Regions from separate parts of the Homo sapiens genome. Here regions 1 and 3 are each reported to be linked to region 2. The links are microRNA targets in miRTarBase. Many come from high-throughput screens and were not tested one by one. Region 2 holds a microRNA gene; each other region holds the end of a gene's coding sequence.
The links. Region 2 holds the annotated microRNA hsa-miR-6766-3p (UGAUUGUCUUCCCCCACCCUCA, at 2,093-2,114, opposite strand). A microRNA usually pairs through its seed, bases 2 to 8, with sites in the 3' UTR of a target mRNA and lowers its output. Matches are read on the target gene's strand: a 7mer-m8 pairs with bases 2 to 8, a 7mer-A1 pairs with bases 2 to 7 and ends in A, and an 8mer does both.

Region 1 (3,000 bases), not on the chromosome of region 2:
AGACCACTGCACTCCAGCCTGGCGACAGAGCAAGACTCCGTCTTAAAACAAACAAACACACAAACAAACAAAAAACCTGCTTCTTCCCCTCGGCTCCGCTTCCCATCAGCACCTCCCACCCCACCTGCTGTCTCACACAGCCACAAACACACAGCAGGGAGACACTTCCTGCCTCAGGGCCTTGGCACATGCAGTTCGCTCTATGCTCCTCCCCCACCCGGCCCCAACTCCTTTCCTCCCTGACTCCCCTCTGGCCGCCTGGCCCTCCAGGCTCTCTGAGACCCTTGCTGATGATGCCCTTTACTCTCTCTAGGACAAGCACTGATCCTGAGGGGATACTGTGGAGCAGCCCAGTCCACACCAGAGCCCCACGCGGCTGCCCGGCAGTACCTCCTCCAGGCAGGAGCCGGGACTGTCACTTTGGAGACAAAACAGTGTTTGTAACAATAACGTACTCACCGCCGCGGACAATCCCCCACCCCGATCCCTCGCCAGACCAGGACGCTTCCTCAAGCCCAGCCTTCTACAGAGAGTGTGAACGGTACAGCCCCGGCCTGACCCGGGGACCTTCAGCCTGGACACCCGGCAGCTTCTGGAGTTTGTCAGTGGAGGCAGAGGGGATCCGGCCAGGCCCCTCTGTCCAGAAGGAGCTGCCCTGAGGACCATCTTAGCGGCCCTGTCCTCTTTTTCCGCCCATTCTCCCTCGGGTCTCCCCAGAGGGGCCGGCGGGGGCTGGGGAGGGGGTAAGTTTATCCATGCAGACACCAAGGGGGAGCATCCAGTCTTTAAGAGCCAAGTGGGGGCCCCTTTTCCGAAGCCACTTCCAGGCCAAGGCAGTCGCCAGGGCTTCTTGTCCCCACCTTCTGAACCTTCTTCAAACAGTAGTACAAGCTCCCCTCAGCCAGCCTGCCTGCCCAGCGAGGCCCCCAGGTTCAAGGTGTTGGCGGGGGCGGAGGGCAGGGGAACGGGATCCTTCTCCCGCTGCCCACCAACACCAACACACACACACCTCTAAGCTGCTGGCCGAAGATGTCACCAAGGCCAAAGACACAGTATTATGAAGGTTTGGAAACCCCTCTCCTCACCTCCCACCGTGACCTTGGGCAAACCCTGGCTCGGAGCCCAGGGCAGAGGCAGCTCAGAGTGGAGGCTCTAGGCAGGTTTGACAAAGGTCAGTAATACGGTTTCCCCTGGGGTTGACCAGATGTTCCAAAATATCTGCATCCACCTGGAGATGCAGCTAAGTGGGTCCTTATGTACACACCACGTTCACACACACACAGAGGGACCACGTGTGCACGCATGACCGTGTGGGTGGCGGCGTTTGCTGTGAACCACGCTCAGGCCACACAGAGACACATACTTGGTTTCTGGGACTGAGACCCAGGCCTGGCAGGACCGTGCCTACAGATACTGCAAACGTTCCTACAGCCTAGAGGTGCGTATACACACCCAAGTACACGCAGCCAGGCATTCAGGGGTGTGTTTGCCACATGGAGCATCCCTTCCTGGTCTTGCCAGGCACCTGCACAGAGCGTCTCCAGCCCCATCTCCTAACGGGGGCTGGGGGTAAGAGAAATCTAACTGCGCTCCCCCAACCCCTCGCCCTGCCATCTTCCCCTCAAGCCTGCTAAGTTATCCCAGGCCTGTGCGTGGTGGAAAAAGCCAGCCTTGGCCCTGCAGCCTCCACCTCGCCGCTGGGGGACCAACAGGTTGCTTACAGCTTTGCACCCCGGCATCAGCACAGGGGTCCCTGCCCCACCCTCCGGCAGCTCAGGGAGTGTTTTCCTGTGAGGCCTCCCCCATCAGTGGACCAGAGGGAGAAGCCCGATGCCCCATCCCGGCTTTCCCGTAACGCACAGGACACGTGTGCAATTCATAGGAACGGCCCAGATCGCCCTCATGAGTGCCACCTGGTACAGGTAGGTGGCGCTCACGTTCCTGCCCAAATGCAGCCCATCGGGGAGTCACAGTCAGTCCCCCCGGCCCCCCTCCCAGTCCCTGTTGGCTTTCGGTAGCTCTCGCATGCAGTTCTATTAACAGCCGTCTAGAAGCGATGCTTTAGTGGCCTAACCCAGGGTCAAATACAGCTCTTTCTAGCAAAATCAGGCAGCTCTGCCCCATCGGTAGGGGCACCGATTAGTCTACTAACAGCCAGAGGTCCATCTAGCAGGGTGCCGGGAGGAGCTGAGCCCCCGGAGGTGGGCTCCTGGTGACGGGTGTCCAAGAAGCGGTTTCCTTGGGAGCTTCTGCCTCCGTGGGCCTCTCAGCCCGCCCCGTGTGGCCGCCCGGGTGTGGCTCAGCCATGTCCCCTCCCCAGGTCCTTCATTCACCCCTCCCCTCCCCACAGTGGAATTGTTGAAGTGTGGCGAGTCTGTGCTCGGGACAATAAAGCTTGTGACAGGTCCAGGACCCCGGCAGTTGGCTTGTCTCCTCCTCTCCGTGGGGACCCCGGGCTTCTCGATCTCTCCCAATTCTTGGGCACCCTGGTGCCAGGAGATGGCCCCCGATCCTGCCCTCTGCCAGCTCATTCCTTCCCAGGTAGGCACGGCCTCAGAGGGGCTGGAGCTGAAGACATCTGGGGCTGTCCTTGTCCCAGGAGAGGCACCTTAGCAAGGACAGGCAGAGGACAGACCCAGAAAGGCTGCCAGAGAGGGCTGGTCCTGGGTTCACATTTGAACCTGCTGGAGGGATAAGTAGACCTGCAAAAAAAGTCAATGGAAACGGTAACGGATCCGCTCACACACGTGTGATGAGTCCGAGGCGGTTTCCAGCTTCAGTGGGCAAATTCCGGTTCCCGCAGCAGGCTTTCCGGAGATCAGATCAACAGCACGACGTGTTGCAAACTTTGTGGTCAAATAGGCTTTCAAGTGGAGGTTGCCCCCCTGGAAGAGAGAATGAGAATTTTTTTTTTCTCCCCAAGATGGAGTTTCACTCTGTCACCCAGGCTGGAGTGCAGTGTCACGATCTCTGCTCACTTCAACCTCCGCCTTTCAGGTT
Region 2 (3,000 bases):
AGGACTCTTAATTCTGGGCCACTGTAAGTTTCTCCCCAACACCTGCCTGCCTAAAGCTCAGGGTCTGTGATCTTAAGTCAACCAAGCCTTTGTCAACTACAACATGGGGATAACCATTCTAGCTCATGGGACTCCTTGGGGAACAAATAAGGGAAGCACTGCTTGGCCCATAATTATCACTCAAATTATATACACACACTTTTTTAAAAGCCCATCTCCCTGCTACTTGTAACAGCCCTCCGCATGTTCCTGTGAAGGCAGCTATGCTTCTGGGCCCAAGAGTAGGGCCTTTAGTCCTCCCCACTGTGAACATCTCAACATACTCCCTCCCAGAGCTCTGAGATCCAGAGGGTAAGGGTAGCCATGGAAGAAAAAACCTGAACCCAGAGAGTGAGTGAGTGAGTGAGAGAGTGAGTGAGTGAGTGAGTGAGTGAGAGAGTGAGTGAGTGAGAGAGTGAGAGAGAGTGAGTGAGTGAGTGAGAGAGTGAGTGAGAGAGTGAGTGAGTGAGTGAGTGAGTGAGAGAGTGAGAGAGTGAGTGAGTGAGAGAGTGAGTGAGAGAGTGAGTGAGTGAGAGAGTGAGTGAGAGAGTGAGTGAGTGAGAGAGAGAGTGAGTGAGTGAGTGAGAGAGAGAGAAAGAGAGAGAGAGAGGGTGTGTGTGTGTGTGTTAATTTTTTTCCTGTTTTCCCTTCTTCTGAACCCAGACTCTTGAACCCAAACTCTTTCCACTAGCCTGAGCTGACCAGCCAGGGGAAGGGGTCCCTAGGCTCCAGCCCCTTCCTCCCCTGGGCCTAAGCCTTACCTGTAGGGGCAGACCACCCCAGCTGACTCCAGGGTGGTACCTGTCGGCAGCTTGGCCAGGTTGTCCCGCCGCCCAGGCACCAAGTAGCCCCAGCCATGACGCTCTGAGTAGTGCAGAGGGAAGCCATCCCAGGTAAGTGCCATGAGTTTAGGTGTGACCCGCATCTGCAGGCTGAGGAGGCTGGGGCCCGGGGTCCATGCAGGGTCGTCTAGCCGGGGGCAGAGCTTCCGGTACCATCTACGTCCCAGCAGGAAGACAGCAGTGTCACGATGGTAAGGGCAGTTGTTGGGGGGAAGGTTCTCTCTCTCACAATGTCCCCACCCACCCTCCAAAGCCCTGGGGCTTTCTGGTGACCCCAGCCTACAGCCGCCATCCCCTCCTCTGGGATGCTTTAGCCAGGACCCCCATGGAATCCTCTAGAAGAATATTTCAAAAGCAAAGACACTAAGTCAGTCCCACTGGACTAGTCAGAAGCCAGGACACAAAAGCATACCCTGACCCAGGGCAGGGCTCCTTCCCAAGCTCCATTTCATCCAGGGTAACTGACCAGAGGAGGGAGCAGATCTGCCCTCCCCACCCCTCTAGAGAAACACCAGTCCTTCTGGGTGCTCTCTTGCAGGCTGTTCACCAGAGTTGAGCCCAGGGTGAGACTAGCAAGGCACTCAGGACACTTGCTCTCAGGGTCTTGCAGGTGCAAAGCTGGCACCCTGCTGCTCACCCTGGCTGCCCTTTTTCTCATCTCTGCCACCCTATGAGGCTCAAAGGAAGGGGCACCTTCTCAAGGAAGCCTTCTTGATTTATTTCCCGAGGCAGAGTCAGAACTCTACCTATGGACACTAGCTGCACTGGCTGGTCTACGTGCCTGGCTCCTCCTAGGAAAAAGAACTACTGGAAAGGAGGAGCTATGCTCCAGTGTGTACACCCGGTGGCTGCCACGGGCCATTGCACAGCAGGTGCTCACAACACTGTGCTGAATGAGTCCAGTGAGCCGGTCCAGAGTGAGCAAATGAGAATAGGACTGGAAGACAGTGTGACTGAATGGCAGCAGGTCAATAAGTATACATGTGCATGATGCCTCTGTGCCAGAACCCAGACCAGGGCTGTCCTGAGAATGGAGCAAGGGTAGACTCTAGATACACTGCTGGGGGTGGGCAGGGCTCACCCAGGGTGTCCAGGAAGGTGCTGGGGCCGCTTGGGCAGGAGCTCTGTGGTCCCCTTCAGCTTCTGCAAGCAGGCGCGGGCCATGACATCTTGTTGAAACTCCTCCTCCTCACTGCAGGGGCCGAGGTCTGTGAGGGTGGGGGAAGACAATCAGGAGCAGGAGAAGGAACTCTCAATAAGATCTGCTCCCACCCGCTCATCTCCAGAAGGCTGGAGCAATCCTTTCGAAGGACCCCCTCAATCACAGGACCTTCCCAGAGACAACCCCTACCCTACCCTACCTCCCACCCATGCTCCCCACCTTCCTGATCCATGGGATCACCAGGGGCCCCAGCCCCCTCGATGGGCAACTTGCTGGCTGTGGCTGGTTCCTTCTTCACCTTCTTAGCTTTCTTCTGCTTAAATTCTTGCAGGTCCCACTCCAGGTCCCAGAGCCAGGGGTCTTCTTTGTACCTACAGAGCCAGTCCACTAGGGCAGGGCTAAGGCTAAGCCGAAGGCTAGGCCGCCCACCTGCCAGTCCCCTGCCTAGATCCTGCCCACCCAAGGCCTGGCTACCTCTCTCCTGAGAGCAGCTGGCAGGCATCATTGGCCAGATCCATCAACGACTTCTTCATCTCCCGCTGGAGCTCCTCATAAGTGCCCTGTGCCTCTGCCAGGTAACGCTCCCAGTTCTGGTTGACAGGCAGGTAGGAGACACCCATCTCCAGCATGCCGGCCAGAGTCACTGGGTGGGGACACCTTGGAGGCAAACACCAGGAGCTGCCATAAATGACCACAGGAGGCAAGACTGGCCCAATCCCTGAGCTGGTTTAGCAAGCCTCAACCCAGCCACTGACATGGCACAGCTCAAAAGTCAGACGGCATTAAATCCCAGCTCTACTGTTACTCATCCCTGGGTAAGCAACCCCATCTCTCGGAGCCTCAGTTCTTTCATCTATAAAATGGGAACAATATCATCCCATCCTCAGGGGTAATGTGGGAAATATAGATGGCAAAAGTGAAAATGGCTGCCACACGTGGAGTAATGACTCTGTGCCA
Region 3 (3,343 bases), not on the chromosome of region 2:
GCTTTGCTCTGGTTAGATGCCATTCTACCCCTTGCTCCTTGGGCCTAAGTAGTAGCTTGAATGAAGCAGGAATCCTTAGCACTTGGATGTGTTGAGAAGGGGCTCTTTTGGCCGTGAGCATGGATGCCCAAAGGAGTTAGAAGTGGCTTTTCCCTCACCTTCAGCCTGGAAGCCAGAACCCTGATCTCTACTCAAACACATGGACAAACCCGTACTCCCCTTGTTCAGCCCATAAAGAATCTGTGCTGCTTTGAGCTGGGCCAGCAGAGGAGTGTGACTTCACAAAAAAGACAGACTTTGGAGTCAAGAGACCTGGTTTTGAGTCTTGTCTTTGTGACTTACTAGCTGTGTGACTTTGGAAAAGTACTTTGTTTTCTTTCTCTTTGAATCAGAAATTATCATCTGTTTTGGAAAAAATAATTCCTCCCCAGGTTTTTGGGAAAATTTAATCCTATGAGATAATTTATGTGAAAGCATCTTACAAAGTCCTTGACACTTGGTGGATATTTAAACACAGTAGGAAGAAATAATGACCAGAGAGGAAGAATGTGCCAGTATTTCTCCAGAGCTATTCCACAGAGTATTTTTACAGTGGGATATCATGAGCTGTGTGACCCTGGGTAAGACCTCTTACCTCCCTGACTCTTGATTTCCCCTCATAATGGATTTTTCTTTTTTTGAGATGCAGTTTCACTCTGTTGCCCAGGCTGGAGTGCAGTGGCACGATCTTGGCTCACTGCAACCTCTGCCTTCCAGGTTCAAGTGATTCTCATGCCACAGCCTCCCTAGTAGTGGGATTACAGGTGCATGCCACCATGCCCAGCTAAATTTTGTATTATTAGTAGAGACAGGGTTTTGCCATGTTGGCCAGGCTGGTCTCAAACTCCTGACCTCAAGTGACCCGCCTGCCTCAGCCTCCCAAAGTGCTGGGATTACAGGCATGAGCCACGACACCTGGCCTCAGAAGGGATTTCTGACCCCAAGAGGGAGAGACTCCTAAAATTTGAGGTTAAATGTCAAAGTGTGTCACTTTCTTTAACAGAATAGAGATTTATTACCTTGTTTCCAAGATGCCATCAATTATAAGATCACAAGTTTTTGAGAGGAAGTAAAGAACTACAATTATATTAATGAACCCATCAATTGCAAGATATGTTCTGATTTCAGAATCATTAAAATGTGAAGAAATGTCTATCTTGCAATTGAAAAAAAAGCCTATAATAATAATAATGTTGGCTCCTAGGCTGGGCACCATAGTCCATGCCTGTAATCCCAGCACTTTGGGAGGCCAAAGCAGAAGGATCACTTGAGGCCAGGGGTTCAAGACCAGCCTGGGCAACACAGCGAGACCCCATCTCTACAAAAATAAAAAATAAAAAAATTAGCCTGGTGAGGTGACACATACCTGTAGTCCCAGCTACTCTGGAGGCTGAGGAGGGAGCATCCCTTGAGCCCAGGAGTTCAAGGCTGCAGCGAGCTGTGAGCGTGCCACTGCACTCCAGCCCAGGTGACAGATTGAGGCTCTGTCTCAAAAAAAAAAAAAAAAGAAAAGAAAAAAGAAAAGAAAAAGAATCCTGGTTCCCATTTATTAAGCATCTCCTGGGTGCCAGGCGCTATACTCCAGATGTTTTCCTAAGTCCTTCACTTGTTATAGTGCCCCAATGAGGCAGGTGTTATCATTTCCACTTCATGGTTAGGAAACTGAATATAAAGAGGTTGAGTCACTTTTCCAAGGCCACACAACCAGGAAGTAGGGCTTGGATGGTAGGACTTCTTAATTCCAGATACTTTCTCTTCTTGGTAGATTGTTCTCCAGGCTAAGGAGTCACAGACGAGGTTGCTATAGAATAGAAATGGGTTGTGAATGTGTTGCTTTGAACATGTCTTGAATCTGCAAGGTGACCAGGAAGGACAAAGGTAACATAGATAGAGTTGTAATCTAATTAATCTCCAAATACTGGTCCTTGGAGGGAAGGCATTAACAGGACAGTCAGCGTGCTCAGAATCCAGATAAAGGGGAGCCAAAGACCAAGACCGTCAGGGTTGATACAGCCCAGAGTGGGAGAAGGACCCTGATCAGCCACCAGGATCATTCCAGGCCCACGGACAACACAACAAGCTCCTACCCTAGAGGCCACTATTCTGCAGAGTCACCCTATTCCATCACTGACTCTTTACTAATGAAGCAGAAATCTTTTGAGGATAATTTAGTTCTTCTTGCAACCTTTCTTCAAGAGGGGAAAATGTGCTGAGCAATTGTCATGAGCCAGCAGGCAGAGATGTAGTACTGGAACAAGTTATACGTTAACAAGGTTTTCTGGTTAGTTAGTCCAAGTTAGTTCCCCTGTGCCTGGTTATGGGATTGAATGTTTTGCTCTGTGAAGCAGTGGATACGGCGCTTCATCTGATATGAACCCCGTGACAGATCCTATTGTGATACTCTCAGCAGTGCTCCCTGACACCTGGCTCCTGGGCTATCTGTCTATCTGTCTAACTACAGTGTGGGGGAAAGCCAAGCCCACATTGGTGGATTCCCAACATAGCTCTACCTCATCAGATGACAAAAGAATGTTCTGCAGCTTTTTGGTGGGGTGGCGGCAGGGATGTGGACACAGTTGGGGTAGGGCAGGGCAGACAAGGTTGAGGATTGCTGGAAGCATCAGAGATTGCGTCAAAGATGTCTCTGTCGACCTGACCAGAAGAAGCTCATTGTGAAGCTGCCAGAGAGTGTGCCTCTGGGTCTTGACTCTGGAGAGGCTCTTTGGACAGTGGTGGAGATAGCGCCAGGGTAGAGGTCATCGCGTCTCCACCTGGACGTCAACAGGACTGAAGGTCACAGTTGCTGGGTGTTGGCTGCCGTTGCTGTTTGGGCCCACGGCAGAAGGGGCGGTTGGCTTGGGGCCCTTGGGCTCTAGTTCCCGCCTCGTCCTCATTTTCCTGTAGGGAGATAATGTGCACATGGTTGAGTCTTTCCCCTGGTATGCCGCGGGGAATGGGCTCTGCGACTACAGTTCTGGCCAACAGATTAATGTAGATTAATGTAGACATTAAATCACATTGCTTACTTGCCACCACAGAATTTTACAACTGGAAGTGACCTTAGGCATCAGCTAGTCTGCCCTTCAATTTTTTCACTTAGATCAGATATTTAATTTTATTTGTTTCTATTAAGGAATGAGTAAGATGTCAGAGGTGGCTATATAAAAGATAAAAATAAAGATATTACATTTTTTATGTTCAAAGTTGTAGCATGTATTACATTTTCCAGCCTCATTATGCTTGCTAAGTTTATTGCTAGAAATATTTAAGAACTTTTTACATAATTGAAAAGAGAATGTACTGA

Region 1: miRTarBase lists CLIP2 as a target of hsa-miR-6766-3p. Seed matches in the 3' UTR shown: 7mer-m8 at 467-473.
Region 3: the mRNA of NCMAP is a reported target of hsa-miR-6766-3p. The part of its 3' UTR that is shown has no 7-base or 8-base seed match.

The regions. Positions count from the first base shown.
Region 1 is chr7:74,403,524-74,406,523 of GRCh38, forward strand. It overlaps CLIP2 (CAP-Gly domain containing linker protein 2), which reads left to right. Exons shown (of 17, transcript NM_003388.5): 17 at 314-2,412. The coding sequence ends at 325. Among named protein-coding and RNA genes, the nearest start is that of GTF2IRD1, 49 kb to the right of the region's middle. RefSeq lists enhancers at 1,143-2,007, 2,008-2,870.
Region 2 is chr15:89,324,650-89,327,649 of GRCh38, forward strand. It overlaps MIR6766 (microRNA 6766), which reads right to left and starts at 2,161; the gene lies at 2,090-2,161. POLG (DNA polymerase gamma, catalytic subunit) reads right to left here. Exons shown (of 23, transcript NM_002693.3): 7 at 2,518-2,700; 8 at 2,263-2,414; 9 at 1,963-2,089; 10 at 801-1,037.
Region 3 is chr1:24,605,200-24,608,542 of GRCh38, reverse strand. NCMAP (non-compact myelin associated protein) reads right to left here. Exons shown (of 4, transcript NM_001010980.5): 4 at 1-2,937. The coding sequence ends at 2,796. Among named protein-coding and RNA genes, the nearest start is that of SRRM1, 36 kb to the left of the region's middle.